4 linked regions of the Homo sapiens genome follow. The protein of the gene in region 1 purifies or fractionates together with the protein of each later gene. This does not show direct contact. Each region holds a gene or a part of one and is shown in the gene's direction. Other genes may lie near its edges.

What was found.
Region 2: the proteins of SLC25A14 (region 1) and SIL1 purify together in Homo sapiens (affinity purification with mass spectrometry; one large-scale study listed by BioGRID and IntAct). This does not show direct contact.
Region 3: the proteins of SLC25A14 (region 1) and PDIA6 purify together in Homo sapiens (affinity purification with mass spectrometry; one large-scale study listed by BioGRID and IntAct). This does not show direct contact.
Region 4: the proteins of SLC25A14 (region 1) and FKBP10 purify together in Homo sapiens (affinity purification with mass spectrometry; one large-scale study listed by BioGRID and IntAct). This does not show direct contact.

What each region holds. Positions count from the first base shown.
Region 1 is NC_000023.11:130,367,419-130,370,918, forward strand, and holds part of SLC25A14 (brain mitochondrial carrier protein 1 isoform 1 precursor), read left to right. Parts: intron 1-3,500. UniProt on the Homo sapiens protein: Transports inorganic anions (sulfate, sulfite, thiosulfate and phosphate) and, to a lesser extent, a variety of dicarboxylates (e.g. malonate, malate and citramalate) and, even more so, aspartate and glutamate and tricarboxylates.
Region 2 is NC_000005.10:139,188,369-139,191,868, reverse strand, and holds part of SIL1 (nucleotide exchange factor SIL1 precursor), read left to right. Parts: intron 1-3,500.
Region 3 is NC_000002.12:10,792,286-10,795,785, reverse strand, and holds part of PDIA6 (protein disulfide-isomerase A6 isoform d precursor), read left to right. Parts: intron 1-2,583; coding exon 2,584-2,690; intron 2,691-3,500. UniProt on the Homo sapiens protein: May function as a chaperone that inhibits aggregation of misfolded proteins. Negatively regulates the unfolded protein response (UPR) through binding to UPR sensors such as ERN1, which in turn inactivates ERN1 signaling.
Region 4 is NC_000017.11:41,819,504-41,823,003, forward strand, and holds part of FKBP10 (peptidyl-prolyl cis-trans isomerase FKBP10 precursor), read left to right. Parts: intron 1-26; coding exon 27-172; intron 173-765; coding exon 766-958; intron 959-1,203; coding exon of another isoform or gene 1,204-1,260; intron 1,261-1,443; coding exon 1,444-1,586; intron 1,587-2,150; coding exon 2,151-2,314; intron 2,315-2,719; coding exon 2,720-2,905; 3' UTR 2,906-3,500. UniProt on the Homo sapiens protein: PPIases accelerate the folding of proteins during protein synthesis.

The sequences.
Region 1 (3,500 bases):
GGGGGAGACATCCTAGTTTTGGATACTCAGTTTGATGTGCATGAGGAAAATCCAGTGGATACATATGGATATTCTAGCCCTGACTCAAGAGAGGGTTCATGGATATAGATAAAAGCCCATGGAGTCATTAGCACACAGGTGGTATATAACTGTGGAGAGAGTTGACCAAGGAGAGTAGGTAGAGGAGTTCACAACCTTTTTGCCTTCCCAGCATACTGGAGTACTATAAAATTCTTTCCCGTAATAATGATTGCCTGGGGCAGCAATTCTCAGACCCTGGAAAGTATAGTTTGGCAAAAGCCCCCATTGGTATTTCTGCATTTGACAATTACTGGTGTAGAGGGAAGAGCACTGGGCCAAGGAAAAAACACTGCAGAATACCAATTTTTATTTATTTATTTATGCCCAGGCTGGAGTGCAATGGCGTGATCTCTGCTCACTGCAATCTCTGCCTCCCGTGTTCAAGCAATTCTCCTGCCTCAGCCTCCTGAGTAGCTGGGATTACAGGTGCCCGCCACTACGCCTGGCTTATTTTTGTTTTTAGTAGAGACAGGGTTGCACCATGTTGGTCAGGCTGGTCTCGAACTCCTAACCTCGTGATCCACCCGCCTTGGCCTCCCAAAGTATTGGGATTACAGGCGTGAGCCACCGTGCCCTGACCGGAATACCAATTTTTAAGGTCTTGGCAGATGAGGAACCTAGGAAAGACACCAAAGACGAGGAAACTTAGAGAGTAGTGTCATGGGAGCCAAAGAAGTTAATGAGTTTCAAGAAGGAATGAGTGGTTACTTAATGTCACATGCAATAGCGATCTAATATGATAAGGACTGCAAAGAGTCTGTTGGATTTAATATTTTTTAGAAGGTTTGGTGAATTGGTGTTTGCAAAAGCCAATTGCTGTGCATTGAGGAATATGTTTGATTATTCATTCAAGTAATAAAAAAGAAAAAATCAAGCTGACTCTTGAAGAGGCCCCCCCACACACACACAAAAGAAAGAAATGTTTGTCTTATGTGCTAAGCACTGTTCTAGGTTGTTGAGGATGTACTGGTAAACCAAAATGTCCCTGTGTTTATGACACTTAGATTCTAATAGAAGGAGATAAACACAGGAAGTAATGATAAATAGACAAATGTAAAGCACTGTTTCAAGAAGATTGGCTAAAAGATTTACTGTAAGATTTACTATACAATAATATAGTAATAGCTAATGTTTATTGAATGCTTATTCTATCGCAGGCACTGTACATAGAGTATATCCTTTAACTCTCACAGCGACCTTGTGGAGTAGATATTATCTTTCCCATTTTATAAAGGAGGAAACTTAGGTTCAGAGTAGCTAAGTAATAACTTACACAAGATTACACAGCTAATAAGAGGCAGGTCTGAGACTTAATCCACAATCTGTCTGATTCCAAAGTTTGTACTTACAGCCACTATGCTGTTCTGAATCTGCAGAAACATGTTTTTATGTTGGTAGTAACCTTTAAGTACTTACATTTGCTCACTCATTTACTCACTTGCTACTAAAAAATTTTAATAGCAGTCATTCTTTAAAATGACTTTGTTCTATTTTGCCATTTATGTAATAGCATCAGACTTTATTATTTTGTCTATGCTTATCTATAGAAGTTCTTTGTTTTCACACAACTGCCTTATGCCAAAAGATGCCTCCCAGTTCTCACGTTGTGAAGAAATTGGTCACTGTTTTTGGAAATTTATAAAGATTCAAGCCGGGTGCTGTGGCTTGCATCCTGTAGTCTTAGCTACTCGGGAGGATCGCTTGAGCCAGAGTTTGAGGCTGCAGTGAGCTATGTAGTCTTGCCACTGCACTCCAGTCTAGGCGACAGAGCAAGACCATGTTTCTTAATTAAAAAAAAAAAGATCCAGATGGCTCACAAGAGTGTTAGAGACCCTTACTGTTTTTGTGTTCACCTCTTCAACAAATACTTACGGGAAAATTTCTTGCACCAGACACTGTGTTAGGTGGTGGTGACACAATGGTGAACAAACAAAGCTAGTTTCTAATCTCTTGGAGATTTCATTCTAGTTGAGGGAGACAATAAACACACAATGCACAGTATAATTTTAGATAGAAATAGATGCTATGCAGAAAATAACAGCATATTGCAATAGTGACTCAGTAGTGGGGAACTACTTCAGCAAGGATGGTCAAGAAAAGCCTCTGAGGAGGTGACATTTGAGCTGAGATCTGAATGATGATGAGCTGGCCATGAGAGCTGGGAGAAAACCATTTCATAAAGAGGGAATAGGTTACTGAAGGCCTGAGTTGGAAATAAGCTGGACATGTTCAAGGGTTAGAAAGAAAGCTAGTGTGGCTGAGTGTGTGGTGAATGAAGGGAGAAACTAGTAGGAAATGAAACTGGAGAGAAAGGCAGCAGCTAAATCATGTGGGATCCTATAGGTCTTTGCAGAGACTTTGTAATTAGAATGAAATCCACCAGGAAGCCATTTGAGAGCTTTAAGCAGGAAATGTTATGCTCTCATTTATAATTTTAAAAGATTGTTCTAGCTTCTAGGTAGAGATTTTAGACCAATTAAAAGTCCATTGTGGTAGTCCAGGTAAGAGATTATGAGATTGGATGGTCTTTCAGAGGTCTCTTGTCATTTAACAGTCTAGGTTCTAGGTTATTCACATCTGGGCTTTATTTGGGGTGATTTTCACAATTTTCCAACATCAGTTTTGGTCTCAGACCTTTACTATTTGCTGAAGATCCATTGGGGGAAACATATTACCACTATATCTTCATAAATATTGTGCTTATTATTTTACTGTTTGTTCCCAAAAGTAGTTAGTAAGGATAATTATCTCTAGTATACTTAATGTACAGGATGGGAAAAAGAATATTTACAACTCTGGCTTCTCATATTATTGTCTTATCCAAATATATCCTTTTTTTAGAATTGTGGTGGGTTTCACTTCACTATTGGAAAGGCAAAATAACATTTTTCAATGTCTAACACAATGCCTAACACACTGTAGTTATGTAATAGATATTTGTCCATTATATACGAACCATTTCTGCTGGCTAAATTCAGCACGTGCCACCAGTTTACAACGTTTATGCATAATTTATCATTTAATTCTCATAACCATGTATATAAGACCCCTGTTGTATAAAGTAGGAAACCAAAACTCAAAACACTTCACATTTTTCTTCATGTAATCCTCAAAGCATTCACATGAGGTAGGCTATGGCATTATATAGAATTTATAATGATGAAACAGACTCAGAGAAGAATAATGACTTGCCCAACTTTCTATTTTCTTACCCTGCTTTAGTTCTCTTTGTGGCACTTATTTTTGGATATAATATATATCAATTTGTGTATTTGTCAGCCCCACTAGAATATGCACTCCATGAGGGTAGAAACTGCTGTATAGGTTACCTATTGCTGTGTAACAAATTACTCCAAAACTCATTGCCTTAAACCATTTGTTATTTTGCAGTTTCTGTGGGCCAGGGATTGCAAAGCAGC
Region 2 (3,500 bases), on another chromosome or scaffold:
TCCTGGCCTCGAGATCTGCCGGCCTCGGCCTTCCAAAGTGCTGGGATTACAGGCGTGAGCCACTGTGCCTGGCCCTTTTTAAGAGGGTCTCACTCTGTTGCCCACGCTGGAGTATAGTGGTGTGATCATAGCTCATTGCAACCTCCAACTCCTGGGCTCAAGTGATCCTCCCACCTCAGCCTCCCAAGTAGCTAGGACCATGGGTGTGCACCACCATGCCTGGCTAATTTAATTTTTTTTTTTTTTTTTAAAGAGACAGGGTCTTGCTTGCAACATTGCCCAGGCTGATCTTAAATTCCTGGCCTCAAGTGATGCCCTACCTTGGCCTTCTAGAGCACTGGGATTACAAGTGTGAGCCACCATGCCCAGCTATACCAGTGGGCTTTTAAATGGACATTTCTTTACCTCTGGGGATAGTCTCATTTTTGTGAGGCTCCCAAGGGGAAAGCAGCCATCTGACCAAACTAGAAAACTAGCAGGCTTCAGCCCAGTGGAATAACATAAAGTAGGACAATCGATACAGACAACATTGATTGGCCATGCTTTGAGTGCTGTGGATAGTGTGTATTGGAAGCTTAAGGGGCCAGCTCATAAGTAAGTTGTAAGTAAGTATTTAAGGATGCTTTTTTTTTTTTTTTTTTTTTTTTGAGACAGAGTCTCACTGTCACCCAGGTGTGAGTGTGATCTTGGCTCACTGCAACCTCTGCCTCCCAGGTTCAAGTGATTCTTGTGCCTCAGCCTCCTAAGCAGCTGGGATTACAGGTGCTTGCCACCATGGCCGGCTAATTTTTGTATTTGCAGTAGAGATGGGGTTTTACCATGTTGGCCAGGCTGGTCTTGAACTCCTGACATCAGGTAATCTGCTCACCCCGGTCTCCCAAAGTGCTGGGATTACAGGTGTGAGCCACTGTCTCTGGCCTAAGGTTGCTTCTTGTTTTTCCCCACACCCCATCTCATACTCATGGGGAGTTGGGTTTGACTGTATTCTTGAAGTTAAGTCTCCATCCTTGGACCCAGCTGCTAAAGTCTAAAATGATTGTGTTTTGGGCTGGAAGATATTATAGAGATCTTTATTTCCTTGCAAACATCAGGGCTGGCTGTTTGTGGTACTGTGGATGAGTGAAGAGTCAGGAGATACACTTCTAGTTCTGTTACTGCCCAATGCCTCCATTTTGCATTTGATAGGTTTTTATTTTTCTGACGACAAAAACTGAGCCCCAGAGAAGTGAAGTGGGCCACGTAATGGTAGGATCTTTTTTAGGCCACCCACATAATAGTGGGACTCTAGTGTTAGAGCTGGGACACAGGCTAGGGGTCTTACAAAGGGTGGCCATAGAAGTTGTTAGAATTGTTTAAAGCATTGTAAAGATGCAGGATGCTTTTGCAGTTAAAAGTCTCCTGGGAAGGAGGAGGCCCTGTCTCCACTTACTGCCTTGTACATGATCTTATACCCTCATGGTTGAAGATTTTTGCTGTCGTGCTGTTTTTCCTCCTACTCATGTCGAAATGTGTTTCTCTTGCTCTTACCTCAGAGGAAATGAATTTGAAGCCTTCCTCCGTGTTAGAAACAAATAGTGCTCAGGCCAGACTTGTGTGTTTCTGTAAAGAATGAGGCCAGATGTAACAGTGGACCTTATCTGGTGATCCAAGCAAACCTTCAAGACATCTCTAAGAGAAAGAGAGAAGGAATGAGTGTATTTCAGAGTGGTTTAAACACACTTTGGAGTCAGACTCACTTGTATTTACGTTCTGATATCTACTTACTAGTTGTCAGATTGTAAGTTACTTATTTTCTCTAAGCCTTAGTTTTATGATCTGTTGAATGGGAATAGTAATATGTATTTTTATAGCTATCTTAAGAATTCAGAGAATAGATATGGTGCTTCCTCTGGCACAATGTAAAACAGCAGTCCCCAACCTTTTTGGCACTAGGGACTAGTTTCATGGAAGACTATTTTTCCATGGACTGGGGGATGTGGGGGATGGTTTGGGGATGATTCAAGCACATTATATTTATTGTGTACTTTATTTCTGTTATTATTATTTTTGAGACAGAGTCTCACTCCATCACCCAGGCTGGAGTTCAGTGGCACAGTCTTGGCTCACTGCAACCTCTGCTTCCCAGGTTCAAGCAATTCTCCTGCCTCAGCTTCCTGAGTAGCTGAGATTACAGATGTGTACCACCACACCCGCTAATTTTTGTATTTTTAGTAGAGATGAGGTTTCACCATGTTGACCAGGCTGGTCTTGAACTCCTGACCTCAGGTGATCCACCCGCCTGGACCTCCCAAAATGCTGGGATTATGGGCATCATGCCCAACCTATTTCTATTATTATTACATTATAGTATGTAATGAAATATACAACTCACCATAATGTAGACTTAGTGGGAGCCCTGAGCTTGTTTTCCTGCAACTAGACGGTCCCATCTGGGGGTGATGGGAGACAGTGACAGATCATCAGGCATTAGATTCTCATAAGGAGTGTTCAACCTAGATCCCTTGCATGCACAGTTCACAATAGAGTTTGTGCTCCTATGAGAATCTAATGCTGCCACTGATCTGACAGGAGGCGGTGCTCAGGCGTTAATGCAAGCGTTGGGGAGCAGCTGTAAATACAGATGAAGCTTTGCTCACTCACTTGCTGCTCACCTCCTTGGATGGGTTTCTGATAGGCTACAGACCAGTATCGGGGGTTTGGGACCCCTGATGTAAATGCTCTGTGTTGTCATCATTATTGACAACAATAGTTTCCAGTTTCTGAGCCACGTCGTAGTTTCAGGATAGGTTATGCTGACCAAGCAAGTTTTATCTTAACCATCACCTCATTGTTGTCTTAGTTGGTTTGTATTACATATTATTTATACCAATAGTTATAGGTATTTCATGCTGAATAACTAAAAGTTGTGAGTAGCAAGGAACTTTGCTGCTTCTCTGCCATCTCCTTCCTTACTCAGCTTAGTGCTTATCTTTCTCAGGTTCTCTCTTGTCAGGTGCTCAAGCCAGCAGGCCTTGTTTCGGGGGCAGTGTCTGATGAGGGGATTTTATTGGGGTAGGGCTGGCTAGTCCAGAGCCTGCCTGGTCCCTCAGATAGTATGTTCTCCTTATCTCTTGCTTTCTGCTCTTCAGCCAGACATGAAGCAATTAGCTCATCAAGGGAATGTTGACTTTTGTCACTGCTTTCCTCTGATTTGTATGCTCATTTCTGGTCCTTGTGCAAAGTCACGGAGGCACAGTCACATACACTGACCCAGATTTTGTGCTCAAGTTGACTGTCTCTCTCTTTGAGATGTACAACTGGTTCCATGTAGCAAGGGAGTGAGGAAAAAGCCCCTGGAGCCAATCCCATTATTTTGATCTCAAGTTGAGTTTTTAAAAAAATCCAAGCACTATGACTATAGACCATGCCTCACTTCTCTGTATGAAACAAATAAGGTAAAAAAAACTCACTATTTGGAGGGAAGGCCAATCTGAATTGGTAAACAATAGGAATTAGTACAT
Region 3 (3,500 bases), on another chromosome or scaffold:
CCAGCTAATAGAAGGCAGGGAAGGTAGGGGTGAGGGGTACAGAATCTGTCGTGTGTGAGCTGGGAAGGCAGCCCATCCTGGCTGCCTGGCTGCTAGCCTCTCCATACTCCAGCGTCGTAACTAAACAGTACTTAGTGTCTTGCTTCTCTGTATAATGGGGATGTGCAAACCTATTTTAAGGTACCAGAAGCTTAATTGAAATAGTACACATAAAGCATATGAGACAAATACTTGGCAAATATGTGTCGTTGGCAAATCTCGAGGCTGGAGGGCTCATCTTCGTCTTCGTCTTCGTCTGAAGATGAAGATGTGGCCTTGGACACGTTGTCTCTGCTAGGCTCCCCAGCTCCAAAGTTCTAGGGAGAGACTTTTTTTTCCCCTGAGTAAACACCTGCTTTTCTGCCTTTGAATAATAATTTGTTTTAGTTTTCCTCACTTATGAAAATGCACATGTTTTTAGTGCAGTCAGTCTGCTGCTGTTTTTATAAATTTAGTTTATTGGAACACAGCCCTGCCTGTTTGTCAACATATTGTCTCTGGCTCCTTTTGCACTGGAACAACAGAATTGAGTAGTTGCAATAGACAGTATGGCCCAAAACGCTGAAAAGTTTTTTTCCTAGTATACTTCATGATTTGGCATATGTCCAGATAAAGACTCGGGGAAGGGGCAGTGGTTCAGATGACGGAAATACCTGACATAGATAAGGAGCAGAGGCTGTTTCATGTTGAGGCCTTGCCCTTCTGTGTTATCAAGTGACATACTTGGTAGGCTCAGCCAGCGATACAGTGCAAGATTATCTGAATAGATGCTGAGAGTTGCTGTAATATATTTTGTGGGTATTTTTGTTTTGTTTTGTTCGAGATGGAGTCTCACTCTGTTGCCCAGGCTGGAGTGCAGTGGTGCTATCTCGGCTCACTGCAACCTCCGCCTCCTGGGTTCAAGCAATTCTCCTGCCTCAGCCTCCTGAGTAGCTGGGATTACAGACATGCACCACTACACCCGGCTAATTGTTGTATTTTTAGTAGAGATGGGGTTTCACCATGTTGGTCAGGCTGCTCTCGAACTCTTGACCTCATGATCCGCCTGCCTCGGCCTCCCAAAGTGCTGGGATTACAGGCGTGAGCCACCGCACCCGGCCTATATTTTGTTTCTTGTGTCAGGTCTGGTGTGTTCTCAAAAGTTTCTCTTCCTGGGCAGAAAAAAAGGCCGGCTGCCACACCTTAGATCTCTAATCCCAGCACTTTGGGAGGCTGAGGTGGGAGGATCACTTGAGTACAGGAGTTTGAGAAAACTCTAAAAAAAAAAAAAAAAAAAAAGAAAGATTTTTTTTTTTTTTCTTGACACAGAGTCTCGTTCTGTCACCCAGGCTGGAGTGCAGTGGCGCGATGTCAGCTCACTGCAGCCTCCGTCTCCTGGGTTCAGGTGATTCTCCTGCCTCAGCCTCCTGAGTAGCTGGGATTATAGATGTCCACCACCACGCCCAGCTAATTTTTGTGTTTTTAGTAGAGACAGGGTTTCACCATGTTGGGCAGGATGGTCTTGAACTCCTGACCTCAGGTGTTCCACGTGCCTCTGCCTCCCAAAGTGCTGAGATCCCAGGCGTGAGCCACCACAGCTGGCCAGAAAATGAACTTTCTAAAGAGATTCTATTAGATCTAGTTTTGCCTTTAAACTGAAGAAAGCAGATGGCATATGTTATTCCAGTACTTCTGTGTTAGTTAATAGCCCCTGACTGTCTTGAGCAAATAAGTTTTTGGTGAACTTCCAAAGACTATTATCATCTTGCCTCTTTGAGTTTTAATGCAGATTTGTTACTTATATTAGGATTAAGTTCAGCTTAACTGTTTCAAGCAAGATAGAAAAAAAGAAGCCTGGAATGGTTTCCAGTTACTTGGCTTTAAAGACACCTCATACCTACTTTTTCCATCTTTTCTATCTGGTATCTCACAGAAATTGTTCCTTTTTTATTTGGGAAATTCCCCTGCTTTCTCAGCTAGATATTAAGCTTCTTATTCATCCATGTTCATGTTCGGTAAACATTTGTGAGTTATTCTCATTAGGAGATGGTGTTTGAGCAGGGAGTTTTCGTTCACACTACGTAAAACTTAAGAAGAGAAATCGGGCTGGACACGGTGGCTCACACTTGTGATCCCAGCACTTTGAGAGGCTGAGGTGGGCGGATCACTTGAGGTCAGGAGTTTGTGACCAGCCTGGCCGACATGGTGAAATCCTGTCTCTACTAAAAATACAAAAATTAGCCAGAAATCACTCGAACCCGGGAGGCGGAGGTTGCAGTGACCTGAGATGGTGCCACTGTACTCCAGCCTGGGCAACAGGGTGAGACTCCATCTCAAAAAATAATAATAATAAATAAAAAAGGAAAAGGAATTGGTTTTCCAAGTGTTAAGTTTAGTGCAAAATGCATTGTGGGGAGAAAGTGTGTTCTGTCAGAGATACACGTGTCAGAACTGTGTCACACCTGGTGAAGCCGACAGTGAGGTAAAGACACAGTCTTGGGCCGGGCCAGATGAGGCACTTGCTGAAGGCCGGGCTGAGGACCGCCTACCTTCCGTCTCCTGTAGGTGGCAGAACTGGTGAAGCCATTGTAGATGCTGCGCTGAGTGCTCTGCGCCAGCTCGTGAAGGATCGCCTCGGGGGACGGAGCGGAGGATACAGTTCTGGAAAACAAGTAAGACCATAAAATGTCAGTTTTTAATGTGTCATAATTTTGAAGCCAGAGTGGATACCTTGTATAAGATAGTTGTTTTTTAACAGTATGTTAAAGTGGTGAACTCTCAATTAAAGAATAATAGAGGATTGGATCCACCGATCCCAGAGGGAACCAGCCCTCCAGCCTGCTCATTTGGCCTCCTCAGAATTGCTGTTGCCAAAGCCAGTCAGTCCCAGGGCCTCTTGCCACACCTGCAGTCCAAGTACCAGGCCCAGGAGCCACGTGCTGGCATCCCATGGCACTTGTAGGTCCAGAGTGGGGATGGGATGGACGGGTTTTCCTCTAGGTAGGCTTTGGCAAACCGTGATGAGATTGGATTACCTCTTGGCCTGTATCTGTGGCAGTCAGCCCCAAATCCATGGAAAATTCTACACAAATGGATAGGGAAGAAGAGAGAGAGAGAGGAGCAGATTGGTGTTTTAGATGCCCTTATGTGAAATGTGAAGCTTACACTGATGTTCTTGTGAAAAGACAAACTTGAAGATCTATCAATATTAAATGGGCTTTTACTTTTAGGAGACCAGTTACACTAGCTTCTTTATACAGGCTCAGAGCTTACCCAGAGATTTCATGCTCTTGCCTTTTATTTTAAACTTAGACATTTAATGAGCATAGTTGCCTGGCCCCCTGCACCCTGCCTGGCAACAGAAAGCAATGCTGACTGCTTCTTAGATTTAGTACTGAAGAACATTCTTCGAAAAAAGAAAAGGATTAAGTGTTATTTTTAGCTCTGTTGACTGGTAGGGACTTTGTCTATGAAAGATGTAA
Region 4 (3,500 bases), on another chromosome or scaffold:
CCTGGCCCTCCCGCCTTGTATTGCAGCTACTCCCGCAACCACACCTACAATACCTATATCGGGCAGGGTTACATCATCCCCGGGATGGACCAGGGGCTGCAGGGTGCCTGCATGGGGGAACGCCGGAGAATTACCATCCCCCCGCACCTCGCCTATGGGGAGAATGGAACTGGTAGGGGCGTTCCCCAGCCACCACCTCAGCTCCTCCTCCGAACTGCCCATTGTGTCTAGGCCACCCCCTCCCACAGTGGGATTCCAGGCACCGCTCGGCCCCTCTCATCACAAAAACATGCATGCAGCTTACATCTGGTCACCCCATCTGATTCCTGCCACACAGACTCCATCGGTTTCCTCCAGGGCAGCGCCCCACTTCGCCCCTTCCGCAGTGGAGAAGGGCAGCCAAGTTTGGGGAGGGAGGGTGGTTATGGAAAAACAGAACCAGCATACCCCCAGGACCCAGCTGTGCTGGGAGCCTCAGTGTCCTCACCTGTCAAGTGGGCAAGCCATGCTGATCCGCAGGGTAAGTTACTGGGAGTTTGCAAGACGGTGAGTGGAAAAGGGCTTTCTTACTGGAAAGCTGCCTTCCCCTGCCCCCTGCCCCAGTGAAAGTTTGTTAGAATTGACTCTGGACAAACATCCCGTCCCATCCTCCTTTGGATCCTCAGGGTCGGGAAGGGGTATCAGGTCTGGGGACCTCCATGGAGAGACCTCAAGTAGCCTCTCCTAGTGCTCTGAGCTGACCACACTCCCCCATTCTGGCCTCAGGAGACAAGATCCCTGGCTCTGCCGTGCTAATCTTCAACGTCCATGTCATTGACTTCCACAACCCTGCGGATGTGGTGGAAATCAGGACACTGTCCCGGCCATCTGAGACCTGCAATGAGACCACCAAGCTTGGGGACTTTGTTCGATACCATTACAACTGTTCTTTGCTGGACGGCACCCAGCTGTTCACCTCGTGGGTCCGGGGGGGGGCCGGGACTGGGCAGGTGGGTGGGCACAGGCATGGGGAGTCCTCCTCAGTGCACCCCCGACGCCTGCTCCTCCCTCTTGGTCCTCGAGCGCCAGGGGAGCATTCAACCTCTTGCTGCTTTCTGTAAGTCCCCATCTCGGAGCATGTCGAGGAGATGAAATTCTCTGCTTCGCAGGGGAAGGGAAGGTGAAGCCAACAGTTGGGGGAGAACTGCTCTTTCTATTTCACAGAGGGGAAACTGACGCAGGGAGCCATGAGCCCTCGAGGCCACACTTTAGGGGGCAGAGGCAAGATGAGAAGGGAACCCCACGTCTGCACAGCTGGGCCCCTGCACTCTGCTGCGTGGCCCAAGTCACCAGTGGGAGTAACTCCGGAACTGAGGGCTTGTTCTGGGCCCACCTCAGAGGGAGAGGGGTGTGCGCTGGCAGGGGACAGGGTGGCTGCTGACCTGGGCATCTGCTCTCCCCCAGGCATGACTACGGGGCCCCCCAGGAGGCGACTCTCGGGGCCAACAAGGTGATCGAAGGCCTGGACACGGGCCTGCAGGGCATGTGTGTGGGAGAGAGGCGGCAGCTCATCGTGCCCCCGCACCTGGCCCACGGGGAGAGTGGAGGTGAGGGGCTGAGACCATAATCTTTTTTTTTTTTTTTTTTTTTTTTTTTTTGAGATGGAGTCTGACTCTGTCACCCAGGCTGGAGTGCAGTGGTGTGCTCTCAGCTCACTGCAACCTCCACTTCCCAGGTTCAAGTGATTCTCCTGCCTCAGCCTCCCGAGTAGCTGGGATTACAGGCACCTGCCACCGTGCCCAGCTAATTTTTGTATTTTTAGTAGAGACAGGGTTTTGCCATGTTGGTCAGGCTGGTCTTGAACTCCTGACCTCAGGTGATCCACCCGCCTTGGCCTCCCAAAGTGCTGGGATTATAATCATGAGCCACTGCGCTCGGCCCGAGACCGTAATCTGACTGGCATCTGTCCCTTTTGCTCCTGCCCACTGTGGGTCTGATGACTGGTGGGAGGAGTCAGGAATGCCTTCAGGATGGCTCCTTAAACATCCCATGCCCCACTCTCCAGCCCAGCCCCAGGAGGGGAAACTGGCCTGTGGGCTGGGAAACAGTGAAGCCAGGCCCAGACCCCGGCCTGACTAGGACCCCTCCCTTCTCTCCTGCCCTCCCTCCAGCCCGGGGAGTCCCAGGCAGTGCTGTGCTGCTGTTTGAGGTGGAGCTGGTGTCCCGGGAGGATGGGCTGCCCACAGGCTACCTGTTTGTGTGGCACAAGGACCCTCCTGCCAACCTGTTTGAAGACATGGACCTCAACAAGGATGGCGAGGTCCCTCCGGAGGAGGTGGGTGAAGGTTCAGTCCTAATAGCCATGCCCACGCAATCCCCGCACCCAGGAAGCATCGAGGAAGAAGACGTCCCCCGTCCGGACTGCCCACCCGCCCTGGTGCTCCTGCCTGCGCTGAGTCCCACGCCTCAGGCTCCTTGTCCCTGCTTTTTCCTGGGCACACATGCAGGCTGTTCCCTACCTGAGACCAGTCACAGACTATCCCCATGCCACGCCTCCACCCCAGCCCCCACCAGGACCCCAGCACCAGTGCCTTTCCCAGCCCTTCCTGAGTTACAGGGTGCGGGGGAGCCTGGGAAAAAAGAAGAAAAAGAAAGCACTCACTGGCCTCCACCCGGGGCCCCTGCCCCTCCCAAGGCCATGACCCTCACTGCCCGCTCCCCCGGCTCTCCCCTGCCCCAGTTCTCCACCTTCATCAAGGCTCAAGTGAGTGAGGGCAAAGGACGCCTCATGCCTGGGCAGGACCCTGAGAAAACCATAGGAGACATGTTCCAGAACCAGGACCGCAACCAGGACGGCAAGATCACAGTCGACGAGCTCAAGCTGAAGTCAGATGAGGACGAGGAGCGGGTCCACGAGGAGCTCTGAGGGGCAGGGAGCCTGGCCAGGCCTGAGACACAGAGGCCCACTGCGAGGGGGACAGTGGCGGTGGGACTGACCTGCTGACAGTCACCCTCCCTCTGCTGGGATGAGGTCCAGGAGCCAACTAAAACAATGGCAGAGGAGACATCTCTGGTGTTCCCACCACCCTAGATGAAAATCCACAGCACAGACCTCTACCGTGTTTCTCTTCCATCCCTAAACCACTTCCTTAAAATGTTTGGATTTGCAAAGCCAATTTGGGGCCTGTGGAGCCTGGGGTTGGATAGGGCCATGGCTGGTCCCCCACCATACCTCCCCTCCACATCACTGACACAGCTGAGCTTGTTATCCATCTCCCCAAACTTTCTCTTTCTTTGTACTTCTTGTCATCCCCACTCCCAGCCCCTTTTCCTCTATGTGACAGCTCCCTAGGACCCCTCTGCCTTCCTCCCCAATCCTGACTGGCTCCTAGGGAAGGGGAAGGCTCCTGGAGGGCAGCCCTACCTCTCCCATGCCCTTTGCCCTCCTCCCTCGCCTCCAGTGGAGGCTGAGCTGACCCTGGGCTGCTGGAGGCCAGACTGGGCTGTAGTTAGCTTTTCAT